Regions from separate parts of the Homo sapiens genome. Here all the other regions are reported to be linked to region 1. Evidence: microRNA targets listed by miRTarBase, many of them from high-throughput screens and not tested one by one. Region 1 holds a microRNA gene; each other region holds the end of a gene's coding sequence.
The links. Region 1 holds the annotated microRNA hsa-miR-6842-5p (UGGGGGUGGUCUCUAGCCAAGG, at 2,017-2,038, opposite strand). A microRNA usually pairs through its seed, bases 2 to 8, with sites in the 3' UTR of a target mRNA and lowers its output. Matches are read on the target gene's strand: a 7mer-m8 pairs with bases 2 to 8, a 7mer-A1 pairs with bases 2 to 7 and ends in A, and an 8mer does both.

Region 1 (3,000 bases):
TTAAGGACTGGATGTTTGTGTACCTCCCAAATTCCTTTGTTGAAGCCCTAATTCCCAATGCGATGGGATTAGGAGGTGGGGCCTTTGGGAGGTGGTGCAGTCCTGAGCGTGGAGCCCCCATAATGGGATCTGTGCTCATGTACACAGAAGAAGAGAGGCCAGAACTCTCTGTTCATCACGTGAGCCCACAGTGAAAGGATAGCTATCTGCAAATGAGGATGAAAGCCCTCACCAGATGCAGACTCAGCCAGCACCTTGATCTTGGACTTCCAGCCTCTAGAACTGTGAGCAATAAAGTATCTGGTTTTAAGCCACCCAGTCTATAGTATTTTGTTATGGCAGCCCAAGCTGCTTAAGCCATGTACTAAGTACTCAATACACACTAGCGATTACTACTCATGATTTTTTTTTTTTGAGATGGAGTCTTGCTGGGTTGACAGGCTGGAGTGCAGTGGTGCCATCTCAGCTCACTGCAACCTCCGCCTTCCAGGTTCAAGCTATTTTCCTGCCTCAGCCTCCCAAGTAGCTGGGACTACAGGCACATGCCACCATGCCCATCCAATTTTTGTATTTTTAGTAGAAATGGGGTGTCACCATGTTGGTCAGGATGGTCTTGATTTCTTGACCTCATGATCCATCCACTTTGGCCTCCCAAAGTGCTGGGATTACAGGCATGAGCCACTGCACCCAGCCATAATTCACGATATTTTAAAGCCATCACTGAGAAGTTATGGGAGAGGATCATTTTTCTGTCACTTGGAGGAAACCCTCGGCAATGTCACGAGAGCAAGCAGTGGGGAGCAAGCAGACGGGAGGCAACTGGAGCAGGTGGAGGATGCAGCGGGCAGCTCACCTATGCTGCAGCTCTCTGAGAGGTGGGACCGCCGGGCCTCCAGGTTTCTGTAGGAGGTGAGAGAGCAGAAGCCAGGTGAGCTCAGAGGCCGGTAATGTTCCCCTGGGCAGCCTCGGCCCGCCCTCTCCTCCTGCCCCCTGTGGAGAAGTAGTCTGTCCAAATTAGCAATGACCTGGGAGCACAGCCCAGGCTGCTGGGGGCTGGAGTTGGGGGACAGCAGCAACCCCCCAGGATAACACCAGGTGGCATGAAGGCATAGGAATATTCCTGCAGGTATTTATTGGGAGGGAAAGATCATCTTTTTTCAGGGTTCTCCTGGGCCTGAAAGCCAGAAACTATGGAGGTGGGGACTCCCAGTTTATTCTTATTCCTCTCAGCAGCACAGGCTGAGCTCAGGGCCCTGTCCTCTGCACCCCATTGTACTCACAGCATGGGGATCTGGGGCAGGCTGTTCCGCTTCTCACCATCTAGGAAGAGAGGAGGAAGGAGGAGGTTGGAGCTGGGGACACAGGGACCTGGATGGGTGACTGACCTCCTCACTATTCCTACAAGGGACTCTCCTCCCATCCCAGCCCCTAATTCCATTCTCTCCTAGCCTGGGAGCTAGTGAGGCCTTGGGCCAGAAGTGGAATCCTCCTTGGAGGCTGCCTCAGGCCAGATTTCACGTGCTCCAGCTGTGACCCCTGCTTCCTGAATCTGACCCAAGATGGAGACACACACAGGCGGGACCAGCCTTCTACTAGCAATGGCTTTGAGCTTGCTGGGGCTAAAACGCCTCTCCTCCAGAAGCTGCCTCTATGTGGACCTTGATTAGCAGGGCTGTGGGTAGGTGGACCGGCCAGGGCTTAAAGCCTAAGATGGGCCCACTGGAAGCTTCCCGCTGGGCTGTGGGGGAAGAATCCTCATTCACTTATCCATCAGTGGCTTAGCTTCTGCCACTCCGCCTCTGGGGACTCGGGTGTGCTGCCACCCGTGGTCCAGCCACTTTACCTTTAAATGGAACCCACCTTTCCTAGGATGGATGATGAGAGAGCCTTGGTGCTCACCCTGCAGCCGGCAGTAGCCGTCTATGAGGTCAGCCATGTTCTCAGCCTCTGCTAGGGATGAGGTTTTGATGGACAAGGCCTGCGGAGCAGAGACCAGCCAAGGGTGAGACCCCAGAGCCTTGGCTAGAGACCACCCCCAGGGCTGGAGAAGAGATGGCAGGACCCCTGCCACAACCCTTGCCTGGATGCCAATGCTGTCTGCACCTCTCCTGGGGCCCTGCCCTGGAGTCCAGACTGCACTCTGTCACCCCTTTCACCTGTACGCCCATGCTCTCCAAAGGCCAGTCCCAGGCCTCACTTATTTTGGCCTCTGAGCACATAGCACGATGCCTGGTACCTAGTAGGTGCTCAATAAATAGAAGCAGAAACTGAGAAAATGGAAGAGGGGGCTGGGCACAGTGGCTCATGCCTATAATCCCAGCACTTTAGGAGGCCGAGGCAGGCAGATCACCTGAGGTCAGGAGTTTGAGACCAGCCTGGCCAACATGGTGAAACCCTGTGTCTACTAAAAGTACAAAAATTAGTTGGGCCTTGTGGCATGCACCTGTAGTCCCAGCTACTCAGGAGGCTGAGGCAGGAGAATCTCTTGAACTGTGGAGGTGGAGGTTACAGTGAGCTGAGATTGCACCACTGCACTGTAGCCTGGGTGACAGAGTGAGACTTTGTCTAAAAAAAAGAAAGAAAGAAAGAAAGAGGAAGGGGAGGCAATGGGGCAGGGCACAGATGGGTGAAAGGAGAGAGAGATGCAGCCTGAGGTCTCTCTGGGTGTTTTACTGTAAAAAACAAACAAACAAACAAACAAAAAAACCCATGTTTTTGAGGTCTTGATGTCCGCATCCTTGTTCTCTTGGTATAACTTAGGCCTGTGATTTATACCTGATTTCTGGTCACCTTGAACATTCCACTACCTGAAAACCTTCCCAATTTCTTCTCCTGACATTAAAAAAATTGTTTCCCGAATTTTCCTACAATTTATCATCATCCTGGTACCTTTTGTCTAAGAACTTGGTGCAGTTTTCTTAACACGATCCCCAAAGCCAGGAAGCTCCTGGCTTCCTGTGTGTCACAGACTTTTGGTCTGAGCAAGAGCTCCCAATCTGC
Region 2 (4,176 bases), not on the chromosome of region 1:
CGGCAGGCGGCGGCCTTCACCGCTTCAGTGCAACACGTGGAGGCGGAGCTGTCAGCTCAGATCCGCTACCTCACCCAGGTCGGTGTGTCTGGGGGGTTCTGCGAGCGAACCCCAGCTCTGGGTCAAAGCCTCAGGCTTGGGTGATCCAGGGTGGAGCATTAACTGGGCAGGACCAGACCTCCCCAGCCGGCCATCCAGAGCGGGTTTCTTCCTCTAAAAGGAAAGAATGGGCCGGGCGCAGTGGCTTGACAGAGTTCGAGACCAGCCTGGCCAACACGGTGAAACCTCGTCTCTACTAAAAATATAAAAATTAGGCCAGGCTCGGTGGCTCACTCCTGTAATCCCAGCACTTTGGGAGGCTGAGGCGGGTGGATCATCTGAGGTCAGGAGTTCGAGACCAGCCTGGCCAACATGGTGAAACTCCGTCTCTACTAAAAATACAAAAATTAGCTGGGCTGGTAGCGGGCACCTGTAATCCCAGCTACTTGGAAGGGTGAGGCAGGAGAATCGCTTGAACCCAGGAGGTGGAGGTTGCAGTGAGCCAAGATTGCAGCACTGCACTCCAGCCTGGGTGACAAAGCAAGACTGTCTCAAAAAAAAAAAAAGCCGGGCTTGGTGGTGAGTACCGGTAACCCCAGCTACTTGGAAGGCTGAGGCAGGAGAATCGCTTGAACCCAGGAGGCGGAGGTTGTTGTACTTAGCCGAGATCATGCCATTGCACTCCAGCCTGGGTAACAGAGCAAAAACTCTGTCTCAAAAAATAATAAATAATAAAATGAAAGAATTAAAGGTGGCCCTGCATACCTCACTGGGTAACATCACATGTGCCTAGCAGAAGATGTGTAAATAATGCTAGAACTACAGAACTTTGTCACTGGAAACTTGGCCTGACCTCCAGGCCACGAGGTCCCAAATCCTTATATCCTGAGAAGAGGGACAGGATTGAGAAGGTTCTGAAATCGTCGCAGGGACCACTACCATTACTAATTTTTACGGTGTGCCAGATACTCTGCATTACTTTATCTAATCCTCAACAACTCTAGGAAGTAGTTATTGTCACCCCCATTTTACAGACAAGATTAACATAAGTTAAATGATTTATTTACCCAGCTACCAGATGGCCTAACAAATTCAAACTCAGGGAAGAAATGAGACGAGACCTGATGCCTGGTTGGAGTTAGGGTAAAGGAGATGGTGCTCCATTGATAGTCTGTCTTGTAGGTGGCCACAGGGCAGCCCCATGAGGGCTCCAGCTACTCTTCGAGGAAGGACTGTCAGATGGCTCTGAAGCGAGTGGACTATGCCCGCCTCAAGCTCAGTGATGTGGCTCGAACCTGTGAGCAGATGCTGGAGAACTAGGCCAGGGAGATGGACCCAGAGCTGAGAGGGAGACCATCACCTGTGCCATGGGACAGAACCTGGGAACATGTAGGGTGGGGAGTATGAGCACCAACATACCCTGCTGGTCAAAGTACCCTAGGACAAAGGGGCAAATGGTGGGCATGGAAAAACTGAAGCCCGAGCCTGCCCACAGCTATGCTTTGGCCTCTCCAGCAGGGTGCTCCTGCTCTGCACTCCAGAAACACCCTGACAGGCTCAGAGAGGAGATGGAAACTGACATACCCAACCCACTTCCTCAAACACTTCATGCTGCTGCCCCAGCCTTCCCGCAGACTTGGCCTAATGAAAATACATACTTCTTCATTCGGAGAGACAAAACAAGAACTAGAGTTTTAATGATAATAAAAGCAATAATAATAAAAGCAATAACAATAAAAACAAGATCAGACTCTCACTGGGGTAGGCAAGGGACTGAGGAGGTGAAACCAACCCGTATGGTGTCCCAGCACGGCACCTGCTAAGGAGGGAGGGTGGGAAAGCCCAGGCCTTCGCTGCGGGTACAGGAGGATGCAGGAGAGGGCTGAGGTGGGGGAGGAACAACTGGTGTACTGGGAGAGAGATTTGGGACGAGGGGGAACCATCAGCAAAAAATGAAGCCAGGAATCACAGTAAGGGCGCAAGGGCTGAGGCCAGTTGTTTCCATAAAGAAGACTCAATCATTACAAAAATAATTTTTAGTAGTTAAAAAACACACATAGGGCCAGGCATGGTGGCTCACACCTTTAATCCCAGCACTTTGGGAGGCCTGGGTGGGCAGATCACCAGGTCAGGAGTTCGAGACCAGCCTGGTCAACATGGTGAAACCCCGTCTCTACTAAAAATACAAAAAATTAGCCGGGTGTGGTGGTGAGCACCTGTAGTCCCAGCTACTCAGGAGGAGGCAGGAGAATCGCTTGAACCTGGGAGATGGGGGTTGCAGTGAGCCGAGATCATGCCACTGCACTCCAGCCTGGATGACAGAGCGAGACTCCGTCTCAAAACAAAGCAAAGCAAAACAAAACAAAATACACATAGAATTTGTCCAAGTTATTATCACCCAGTGTGAAAAGCAGATTTTATAGTATAACCGTTTTTAAATGAGGGGCCTAAGAGAGGGCAGTGGCTGGTTAGTCCTATGTTAGATATTAACAAATACGTGTAGGCTGGATGTGGTAGGTGACGCCTATAATCCTCGCACCTTCAGAGGCCAAGGTGGGAGGATCACTTGACTCAGGAGTTCCATAACAGCCTGGGCAACATAGAGTCCGTCTCTAAAAAACAAAAAACAAAAACAAGTATGTATACAGTGCCTACCATGTTGTCAGGGGTCAGTCTCCTTTATTACACTTTTTGTAAGAATAAGCCACAGTTTACCCTCACAAGCTTCCATTCTTGGCTCAGGTATTAGAGTCAGGTGCCACAGGTATATAATGAACCGGCAGATCTGGAAAGGATAAAGAAATTGAGAGATGAGCTCTGAGATCAAGGACAGTGTTTGGGGGATGATAGCTTGAACTAGGGAATCAGATGAAGACATCAACACTATGACCTGGCCCACAGTAGGTGCTCAGTGAAAATTTGTGAATTGAATGACTGGCCCTCACCTCCCTCCACAGCTTCATCTCCCACTAGCTTGCTCTAGCCATCTTCTCCATGATGTTGCTCCAAGCACTAGTCCTTGTGCCTGTGGTGGCTTCCTTCCCTCTCCACTGTCTACAGTCCCCGACTGACTGTCCTCAGAGGGCCCAGAGTCAACCTTGTGCAGACAACCTTGATACTTGTGTGCCAAGGCCAGGTTTCCAGCCACCTGAGAGCCACTGGGTCAGGATGCCTGTCAGGAAGGCTCTGGGTCCCTGGGGGGAGGGTTCAAAGGTCCAGTTTACCTGGAGAGGACTGCGGTGACTGCCCCCTCCTCCTCTTGCACAGCACATAGGAAAGGGCTGCGGTGAGGATGAAGATGATGGCCAGGAGGCACAGGACTGGCACTGTGGCTGATGTCCTGGCTGTGGGACCAGCATTTTTTTCCGGCTGCTTCTGGTTCTCCCCAGCCTCAGGCCCAGCTGCCAGACTGTGGCCCGCAGTGTGAATGGTGGTTTCATTGGGACGAGTGAGCTCTTTGTCCGAGGACAGTGATCCTACTGGGAGGGTGGGGCGCTGAGTGGACTGCAAGGTGGACAGGAGCATCTGGGCAGGGGTGTGGATATCTGAAGATGCCCCCTCTGAGGCCTGAGAAATTGGGGGGCTGGTAGGAAGTAAATGCTTCTGGTGGGCCACAATCCCCGAGTAAGCATGTCCACATTCTGGAAAGGAAAGAAATGAGGAATCAGGACTATCAGGAGACAAGGTGAAAAAGCAGATAGAGGTGTAGGGGAGAAAAAGTAATATCTTTTCCTCACCCATCGCAAGGGTCAAGGCTGATACCCCTATAAATAAAAAACATTAACAAGAGAAAAGCCTAACATTTATTTAATCACAGTTTTACATGACATAGGAACCTTCAGAAACAAAGACCCGAGAAAAGTGCATTTTTATGCTTAGGCTTGCTGTGAAGAATGGACAGCTGTATAGACGTATGATTGGATTGGCCGGGCGCGGTGGTTCACGCCTGTAATCCCAGCACTTTGGGAGGCTGAGGTGGGTGGATCACCTGAGGTCGGGAGTTCGAGACCAGTCTGACCAACATGGAGAAACCCAGTCTCTACTAAAAATACAAAATTAGCCAGGCATGGTGTCATGTGCCTGTAATCCCAGCTACATGGGAGGCTGAGGCAGAATCGCCTGAACCCAGGAGGTGGA
Region 3 (4,176 bases), not on the chromosome of region 1:
TGAATTCAGACAGATCCGTTGTTCCAGGCCCCGAGATCCCTGGAGTTGCCCTGGTGTCTGCAGCTCCTTCTTTAAACTTTGAGCTACCCCATACACCTCAGAAATTCCCTTTTGTACTTATGCTAATATACATCAGGTGCCTGTAACTCACAACCAAAATAATTTGTATTATTTTATGATTATGCCCATGGAGTGTGAGGACTGTGTGAAGGGGAGCCTTCTCCACTGGGGACACTGAAGTCATGGAGTAGCCCCAGGAGGCCTGCTTCCTGCTGTCTCCCCAGCCTACCTGCCCTCTCCAGGAGGGAGCTCCCCAACATCTGCCTCCAAGCTTCCCTGATCTTGATCCCTTCATTCACTCTGCCCATTTAGCTCTGTCCTAGCTTTCAAAGCCCAGTTCAAGTTCTACCTCTCTCAAGTTCTACCATGGGACCTAAACTGGGCTGAAGGTACATGAAGGTGCTACAGCAGAAACACCTCTGTGGAAATACTTGTAAGGAATACCTACTTACTACATAGGGTTGTTATGAGGGTTTTAAAAGCTAAATGAATTCAAGTGTCTGACTCCTCCTAGTCAATTTCATTTCTCAAAATCCTTATGGCATTCATCACCTAACCATTCATTCTTACACCCAATTGCGTTCCATATTTTATTTGGAAGTTTGGGCTGGGTGGTGTCTAAAGTCCTATCCACGTAAATTTCTGAATCTGTTGTCTTCCCATATGTCACATCTCCTTAAGGAAGTCTCCACCTTCTCCCTCAAGAAGAGATGAGGAAGGGCTTGAGCAACAGGGCTCAGCACAGGTTTGCAGAGCATCAACATAACTGCATATGGCAGCAAATGTGTTCCATGATCCTCCATTCAAGAACCCAAAGGCTTTTATTTTTATTTTTTCAAAATAGAAGTACCTTTTTTCCTTTTATTATACAAGTAACATACTTACGGTCAAGTCAGTCAAATATTACATAAATTTATCATGCGGAAAGGGAAAATCACCTATAACCCAATTCCTCAGAGATAACTGCTGTCAGAATATTATTTCAGAGTTCTGCTATACACAAATACGCATGTTTCAATGGGTACTTCCAGGGACCGCATGGAGATCCCTTAAGTTGAAACTGGACAAACAGAACAGTGGATGGTTCTAGCTGAGATCTGGGATAGTTTCTGAATTCAGAAGTGTTCACCAGCCACATTGCATGTATTAGCTGGAACCATATATGAAACTACGATACTCAGCTGTTTCTAACCTACAAACACAGTGATTACATATGGCTCAACTTAATGTATATGAAGCCTAGAATGTCAGAACTGATAGAGCCTTAGAGACTTTCAAGTCTATTTCATTATGTTGAAGAGGAAAACGGATGAGGGAGAGAAGTGTCCAGCCTAAGATCATACATCACCTTAAGTGGTAGAATCAGGGCTGCTTCTCTTCCTACTGGACCATGTACCTGTCTCTCATACTCTGCTTCTTTTAATATAATAATAATTTAGGTGCGATATCAGTCTTTTTTGTTTTTGTTTTTGTTTTTTTTTGAGACAGAGCCTTGCTCTGTCACCCAGGCTGGAGTGCAGTGGCGTGATCTTGGCTTACTGCAACCTCCACCTCCCGGGTTCAAACAATTCTCCTGCCTCAGCCTCCCAAGTAGCTGGGAATACGGGCACCCGCCACCAGGTCTGGCTAATTTTTGTATTTTTTTAGTAGATGGGGTTTCACCATGTTGGCCAGGCTGGTCTCGAACTCCTGACCTCAGGTGATCCGCCCACCTTGGCAGTATCAGTCTTTTAGAAGCAGATTCAACATGACATCAGAAAACTTCTCTCAGATAGTCGTGGTGGCTTACACTTGTAATCCCAGCACTTTGGGAGACCAAAATGGGCAGATAACTTGAGGACAGGAGTTCGAGACCAGCCTGGGCAACATGTGAAACCCTGTCTCTACTTAAATATATATATATATATATATATATAAATTAACTGGGTGTGGTGACAGGAACCTGTAATCCCAGCTACTCAGGTGGCTGAGGCAGGATAATTGCTTGAACCCGGGAGGTGGGGGTTGCAGTGAGCCAAGATTGGGTTGCTGCACCACAGCCTGGGTGACATAGGGAGACTGTCTCAAAAAAAAAAAAAGAAAAGAAAAGAAAAGAAGTTTCTCACATCACTCAGTCAAAACTGAAAAGACTGCTTGCTTTGGAGGTAGTTTAGTCCTGTTGCCTGGCAATGTGGCTGGGAAGTGCCCTGTGACTTGGTTCAAGAAGCATATGAACCATAGAGCTAACGAGGCCTAACATTCAGGGTCCTGACTCACATGAGCTCCTTCTTAAGGTCCTAGCAGGGGCCCTAGCAACATATTAATGTGGCAGTATATTTTCATAATGTTTGCAAAAGTAAGATATTTTAGAATTCTTTTTCTTAAAGAGAGTCCCCAGAATTGTATGACCTTCAGGCCTGGATCCACTCCTGTGTAGCACAGAGTTTTGAAAAGCACTAGGCAAGGAGACCAGAGTTCCTGGGTTCCAATCATGGCACTATGCAGGCCCAAATGGGCAGCACAGCACTTGCCCTGCTTTCTTCACGGGAGCGGGGGCAGGGTGGTGGTGGTAAATCATATCTGTGATATGGGATAGTCATCACTGCTTCTCATGGCTGAAGATAACACATAAAAAATGTGTCCCCAGAGCATCTTCCTGTCTCATTTCCCTCTGCTACAACTTCTTCTCCGTTCTCCAATCCCCAGGCCCCTAATACTCCAGCCACTGAACCAGTTATTGGTCATTATCTGTTGCTACTTTTATATGTTTGTTCATGGGCTCCCACTGTTTATAAAGTCTATCTTTTCCTGGGAAAAAATCCTTATGCACAAGGCTTCGGTCTACCAGCCCCTCTTCTCCCACCCCAGTGACGACCTCCCTTAACCGTGTTTCTTGTTGATCTTACAGATAGGGACACTGAGACCTGATGCAGTCCACAGCAGAGTTCTGGAGGCCCCAGACGCAATCCCCAGGTGTCTTGGTCTTCCACCGTCCCAGCCCTCTCGTGTTAGATCATAGACACACGGTTCTTGATATACACATGATAGGGGTCACTACGCTTGTCCACTTTGCGGGAGCGGGTGTATCCCAGGATGAGGCTGCCCACAGTTACAGCAAATAGAAACATGACAAAGAGAATGTACATGTAGGAGTTGTCATCACGGCCAGGTAGGCTGGCCCGCCTCTCTTCAGTCTGGTTGTCTGGCCCCAGCCCTGGCCCTGGCCGGCAGAGCAAATTGCTGTGAAGAGTGGCATTTAGAGCCTTCAGCACGGCATGCAGGCTCTCATACCAGGTCTCCGTTCCATTGGTAGTCTCCATAGCAACAGGGATTGAGGTGGGGGAAGACTCGGTAGAAGCTCTGGTGGCAAAAGAAAAGAGAGAGGGGATGGCTCTGTCACCTGCAGCTCAAATGACCTCCTCCCTTCAGATCCCAGGTAAAATCTTAGCATCATGGCTGATATGGTTTGGCTGTGTCCCCACCCAAATCTCATCTGGAATCATAGCTCCCATAATCCCCATGTGTCATGGGAGGGACCCAGTAGGAGGTAACTGAATCATGGGGGTGGGTTTTTCCCATGCTGTTCTCATGATAGTGAATAAGTCTCACGAGATCTGATGGTTTAGAAAGGGCAGTTCCCCTGCACCTGCTCTCTTGCCTGCCACTGTTTAAGATGTGCCTTTGCTCCTCCTTTGCCTTCTGCCGTGATTGTGAGGCCTACCCAGCCGTGTGGAACTGTGAGTCCATTAAACTTCTTTTTCTTTATAAACTACCCAGGCTCAGGTATTTCTTCATGGCAGTATGAAAATGGACTAATACAATAGCTTATTCTAGCTGCTTGATTACATGTTTGTCTTCTCCATTAGACCATACACTAAACAATAAGGGCAGGGCCTATATTTGTTTTACTCACTGCTATATGCAATCACTTATGACAGCATTCAATAAGTAAGTACTCAATAAATAATTGTACAACAAAGCCTTCCCTGACCATCAGAACCCATATTAATCTCTCCTTTCTTTGGTTTCTATAAATCACTGAACTTTAGATTAGAAGGAACTTAAGGATTATTTAATATAACTCTTGCCATTTTATACACAGGGAAACTGAGGCCTTGAGAGAATAAGTGGCTTGTC
Region 4 (4,176 bases), not on the chromosome of region 1:
CCTCGAATTTTAATTGCTCATAAACTTTGCAAATTGTGTAATACAATTAATAACAAACGCCTTTAATAAGTTAATAGGCAAGCTTTAAAATACATAAACATATGGCCGGGTGTGGTGGCTCACACCTGCAATCCCAGCACTTTGGGAGGCCAAAGTGGGTGGATCACTTGAGGTCAGGAGTTCGAGACCAGCCTGGCCAACATGGTGAAAACCCCATCTCTATTAAAAATACAAAAATTAGCCTGACGTGGTGGTGCACGCCTGTAATCCCAGCTATTCGGGAGGCTGAGGCAGGAGAATCGCTTGAACATGGGAGGTGGAAGTTGCAGTGAGCTGAGATTGCACCACTGAACTCCAGCCTGGGTGACACGGTGAGACTCTTTCTCAAAAAACAAACAAACAAAAACATATGAAAGGTCCATATTATTTCTTTTTTTTTCTTTTTTTTTGAGATAGAGTTTCGCTCTTATTGCCCAGGCTGGAGTGCAATGGTGCTATCTCAGCTCATCGCAACCTCCTCCTCCCAGGTTCAAGTGATTCTCCTGCCTCAGCCTCCCAAGTAGCTGGGATTATAGGCATGTGCCACCACGCCTGGCAAATTTTGTATTTTTAGTAGGCTTCTGGCCTCTGTTGAGGGGCTGGTCTCGAACTCCTGACGTCAGGTGATCCTCCCGTCTTGGCCTCCCAAAGTGTTGGGATTACAGGCGTGAGCCACTGCGCCTGGCTGATACATATAATATAATTTCTAAGCAGCACTGGGACTGTCATCTTCCCAGAATGGATTTTTCAACTTAACAGAGGGGTTTTGAAAGTTTGTTCCTGGGTCAGGCGTGGTGGCTTATGCCTGTAATCCCGGGACTTTTGGAGGTTGAGGCAGGAAGATTGCCTGAGGTCAGGAGTTCGAGATCAGCTTGGGCAACATAGCAAGAACCCCCTCGTCTCTACCAAAAATACAGAAGTTAGCTGGGGATGGTGGCGCACCCCTGTGGTTCCAGCTACTAGGGAGGGAGCAGTAGGAGGATCGCTGGAGCCCAGGAGTCTGACTGCAGTAAGCTATGATCATGCCACTGCACTCTAGCCTGGGTGATATAGCGAGAGCTTGTCTCCAAAAAAAAAGTAAAAGGAGTTTGTTTTTCCTGTACTCTAGCGGGCCTCCCCTGCTGCTTTGCCAGGCTTTTTTCTGGGCTATGTGTTTTGGGGGTGACAGTGGCTGGCTGAGAGCCCCCACTGTCTCCTGGCTGGCCATGTATCCCCGGCCGAGCCTTCTCAGTGGTTCGTCCCTGTCCAGGCAATCCAGCACATCGAGGGCACCCAGGAAAAGCAGGAGCTGGAGGAGGAGCAGCGGCGAGCTGTCATCGTGAAGCCTGTCCGCAGCTGCCCGGAGGCCCCCACCTCTGACACCGCCTCCGACTCCGAGGCCTCAGACAGTGACGCCATGGACCAGAGCCGGGAGGAGCCGTCGGGGGACGGGGAGCTTCCCTGACTACCCCCCCAGCCCTCCTCTCCCTTCTGGGGGCTGGAGGGAGCCGGGGCAGCCACAGGGAGAGACATGGGCGAATGAGTGAGAAATTTTTACAAAATTACGATGTCATTTGGGTCTCTTTTATGACCTCTTTTTCAATACTGTAAATCGACCTTTGAACGAAGCCACTCAACCCGAGGTCCCGGGGCTGGGGTGTCGCAGAGCGTGTGGGAGCATCGGCACCCCAGGGCGGGGCCTCGGCCCCGGGGGCTGGAGGAAGCTGACACGGAGATGCCTGGCCTCTCTCTGCCAAAAAGCATTTTTTCCTTTAAATATGTTTTTTAAGAACAGGGAAAATTAAACAAAACCCCAGGTTATTTCTTCCCTGCCCAGAGCCAGCCTGGGATTGTCAGCCTTCAATCCCCTTTCCTTCCTCTTTTTGGGTTTTCTTCTTTCTCCTTTAAGCACTTACATGGTTGGGGGTAAGACTAGGCTGGGGCATTCTGGGGGCCCGGAGGTCTCCGTTGCTTCTTGGTTGGGGTTTGCTGCTGCTGTGCCCCCCTCCCCCTTCCCCATCTCGGCACTAGAATTCGCCACTCTCCCACCCCCCAGCCCCCACCTCTGCCTCCAGGTCTCATCTTCCACCCCAAAAATGTCTGTCTCTCTCTTTTTGTTTTGTTTGTTGTTGGTTTTTTATTTCTTTTTGGTTTGCTTTCTGTTTTTGTTTTGTTTTTCTTTTTTTTCTTTCTTTTTTTTTTTTTTTTACAATTTTGAGGTCTTCGTGTTCAAGGAGAAGCTATTATATTTTGTTAAGAAAGTGGGGAGAAAAAAACCAAGAGGCCACCGTGCCTTTGTAAAGAAACAAAATAAAGTTTGTACTTTGTTTTTTAGATTCTGAGTCTCCTGGGTGTGGGCTGGCCTGAAGACCAGGGCAGGGCTACCCCATCTAGAGTAGGGGGGCTCCTTGGGCCCCCCAAAGCGGACTGGGTGTGTGTGAGCACAGTTACTCCCTCAGCTTGTGTGTGGTGTTGCGATGAAAAATTGGGGTCCTCAGTTTCCCTGGGATGACCCTGGGTATTCTGTAAAGATGGAAGATGGTGTTGAGGCTGGGGAGTGGCTCTTTGGTGGGCGGCAAGGAGAGAAGGACAACCAAGCCACCGATTCCGAAAACCTGGGAAAGGACACAGGTGTTCAGGGGCCCTGCTTGGTCCCTACGCTTTGGTTAATCCCTAGGTTTTGCCACTTCCTGGGCTTCTGTAACTTCTCTGAGCCTCATCCTCTCCTCCCCTAGGAGGGGAACCCCACCCCCTCCAACCGCACCCCCCCAGCACCCCCCTGCCCCCCCGTGGTGTGGTGTTTAAGTGCTAAGATCCTGGAATTGGTCTGCCAGAGGTCAGTTCCCCCTCTGACAAACCGCTTCCTCTGAGCCTCAATTTCTTCTTCTAAAAATTGGCGATAATAACGGCACAAGGACATTGCATCCTATTGGGGATTGGCATGGTCCTTTATTTCGAGACAGAGTCTCTGTCTCCCAGTCTGGAGTGCAGTGGCGTGATCTCGGCTCACTGCATCCTCTATCTCCTGGGTTCAAGCAATCTTCTTGCCTCAGCCTCTCAAGTAGCTGGGACTACGGGAGTGCACCACCATGCCCAGCTAATTTTTGTATTTTTAGTAGAGACAGGGTTTCACCATGTTGACCAGGCTGGTCTTGAACTCCTGACCTCAAGTGATCCGCCTACCTCGGCCTCCCAAAGTTCTGGGATTAAAGGGATGAGCCACCATGCCTGGCTATTTTTAAATTTTTATTATTATTTTTTGGTGTGAGATGGGGTCCTGCTCTGTCGCCCAGGCTGCAGTGCAGTGTTTTGATCACAGTTCACTGCATCCTTGACCTCCTGGTCTCAAGTGATCCTCCCACCTCAGCCTCCCTAGTAGCTAGGACTACAGGCCTGTACCACAAAGCCTGGCTAATTTTTTTTTTTTTTTTTTTTTTTGAGATGGAGTCTTGCTGTGTCACCCAGGCTGGAATGCAATGGCACGATCTTGGCTCACTGGAACCTCTGCCTCACAGGTTCAAGCGATTCTCCTGCCTCAACCTCCTGAGTAGCTGGGACTACAGGCACCCACCATCATGCCCAGCTAATTTTTGTATTGTTAGTAGAGATGGGGTTTCACCATGTTGGCCAGGCTGGTCTTGAACTCCTGACCTCAGGTGATCCACCCACCTTGGCCTCCCAAAGTCCTGGGATTACAGGTGTGAGCCACCGTGCCTGGCCTGGGCCCGGCTGACTTTTTTATATTTTATTGTAGAGGCAGGGTTTTGCCATGTTGCCCAGGCTAGGCCATGGTCCTTTAAATCCTTCACTCTTCCGTGACCAGAGATCGATTTACACCGTGGTCCCCTCCTATGCCTCATGCTCACAGTGCTGGGTGCTTGGGGACTGAGGCCAGAGCAGAAGGCAGAATCACAGCTCACCCCACGATGACAGTGGACACGAACTCTTCACAGAAAGGCAGGAGTCTGCAGGTTTTCTTGGAATTTTACAGTGAACAATTCAATGGCACTTCATACATTCACAGTGTTACACAGCCTACCTGGTTCCAAAACATGTCCGTCACTCCAAAATGACTCCATGAAGCAGTCACTCCTTCCCCCTCCTCCCAGTCTCCAGCAACCACCTGCTTTCTGGTTTTAATATCTTTTTTAAAAAATT

Region 2: the mRNA of CXCL16 is a reported target of hsa-miR-6842-5p. Seed matches in the 3' UTR shown: 7mer-A1 at 2,309-2,315.
Region 3: the mRNA of KCNE3 is a reported target of hsa-miR-6842-5p. Seed matches in the 3' UTR shown: 7mer-A1 at 2,059-2,065.
Region 4: miRTarBase lists TFAP4 as a target of hsa-miR-6842-5p. Seed matches in the 3' UTR shown: 7mer-m8 at 2,065-2,071.

Annotation. Positions count from the first base shown.
Region 1 is chr8:27,432,413-27,435,412 of GRCh38, reverse strand. It overlaps MIR6842 (microRNA 6842), which reads right to left and starts at 2,043; the gene lies at 1,979-2,043. PTK2B (protein tyrosine kinase 2 beta) reads right to left here. Exons shown (of 31, transcript NM_173176.3): 11 at 1,861-1,978; 12 at 1,281-1,320; 13 at 854-900.
Region 2 is chr17:4,731,829-4,736,004 of GRCh38, forward strand. It overlaps CXCL16 (C-X-C motif chemokine ligand 16), which reads right to left. Exons shown (of 6, transcript NM_001386809.1): 4 at 3,264-3,680; 5 at 2,755-2,824; 6 at 1,705-2,651. The coding sequence ends at 2,778. It overlaps MED11 (mediator complex subunit 11), which reads left to right. Exons shown (of 3, transcript NM_001001683.4): 2 at 1-78; 3 at 1,222-1,779. The coding sequence ends at 1,359. Among named protein-coding and RNA genes, the nearest start is that of MED11, 2.5 kb to the left of the region's middle. RefSeq lists an enhancer at 1-255.
Region 3 is chr11:74,454,205-74,458,380 of GRCh38, forward strand. KCNE3 (potassium voltage-gated channel subfamily E regulatory subunit 3) reads right to left here. Exons shown (of 3, transcript NM_005472.5): 3 at 637-3,399. The coding sequence starts at 3,359. The coding sequence ends at 3,048. Among named protein-coding and RNA genes, the nearest start is that of KCNE3, 11 kb to the right of the region's middle.
Region 4 is chr16:4,255,362-4,259,537 of GRCh38, reverse strand. TFAP4 (transcription factor AP-4) reads left to right here. Exons shown (of 7, transcript NM_003223.3): 7 at 1,289-2,352. The coding sequence ends at 1,483. Among named protein-coding and RNA genes, the nearest start is that of LINC01569, 3.7 kb to the right of the region's middle.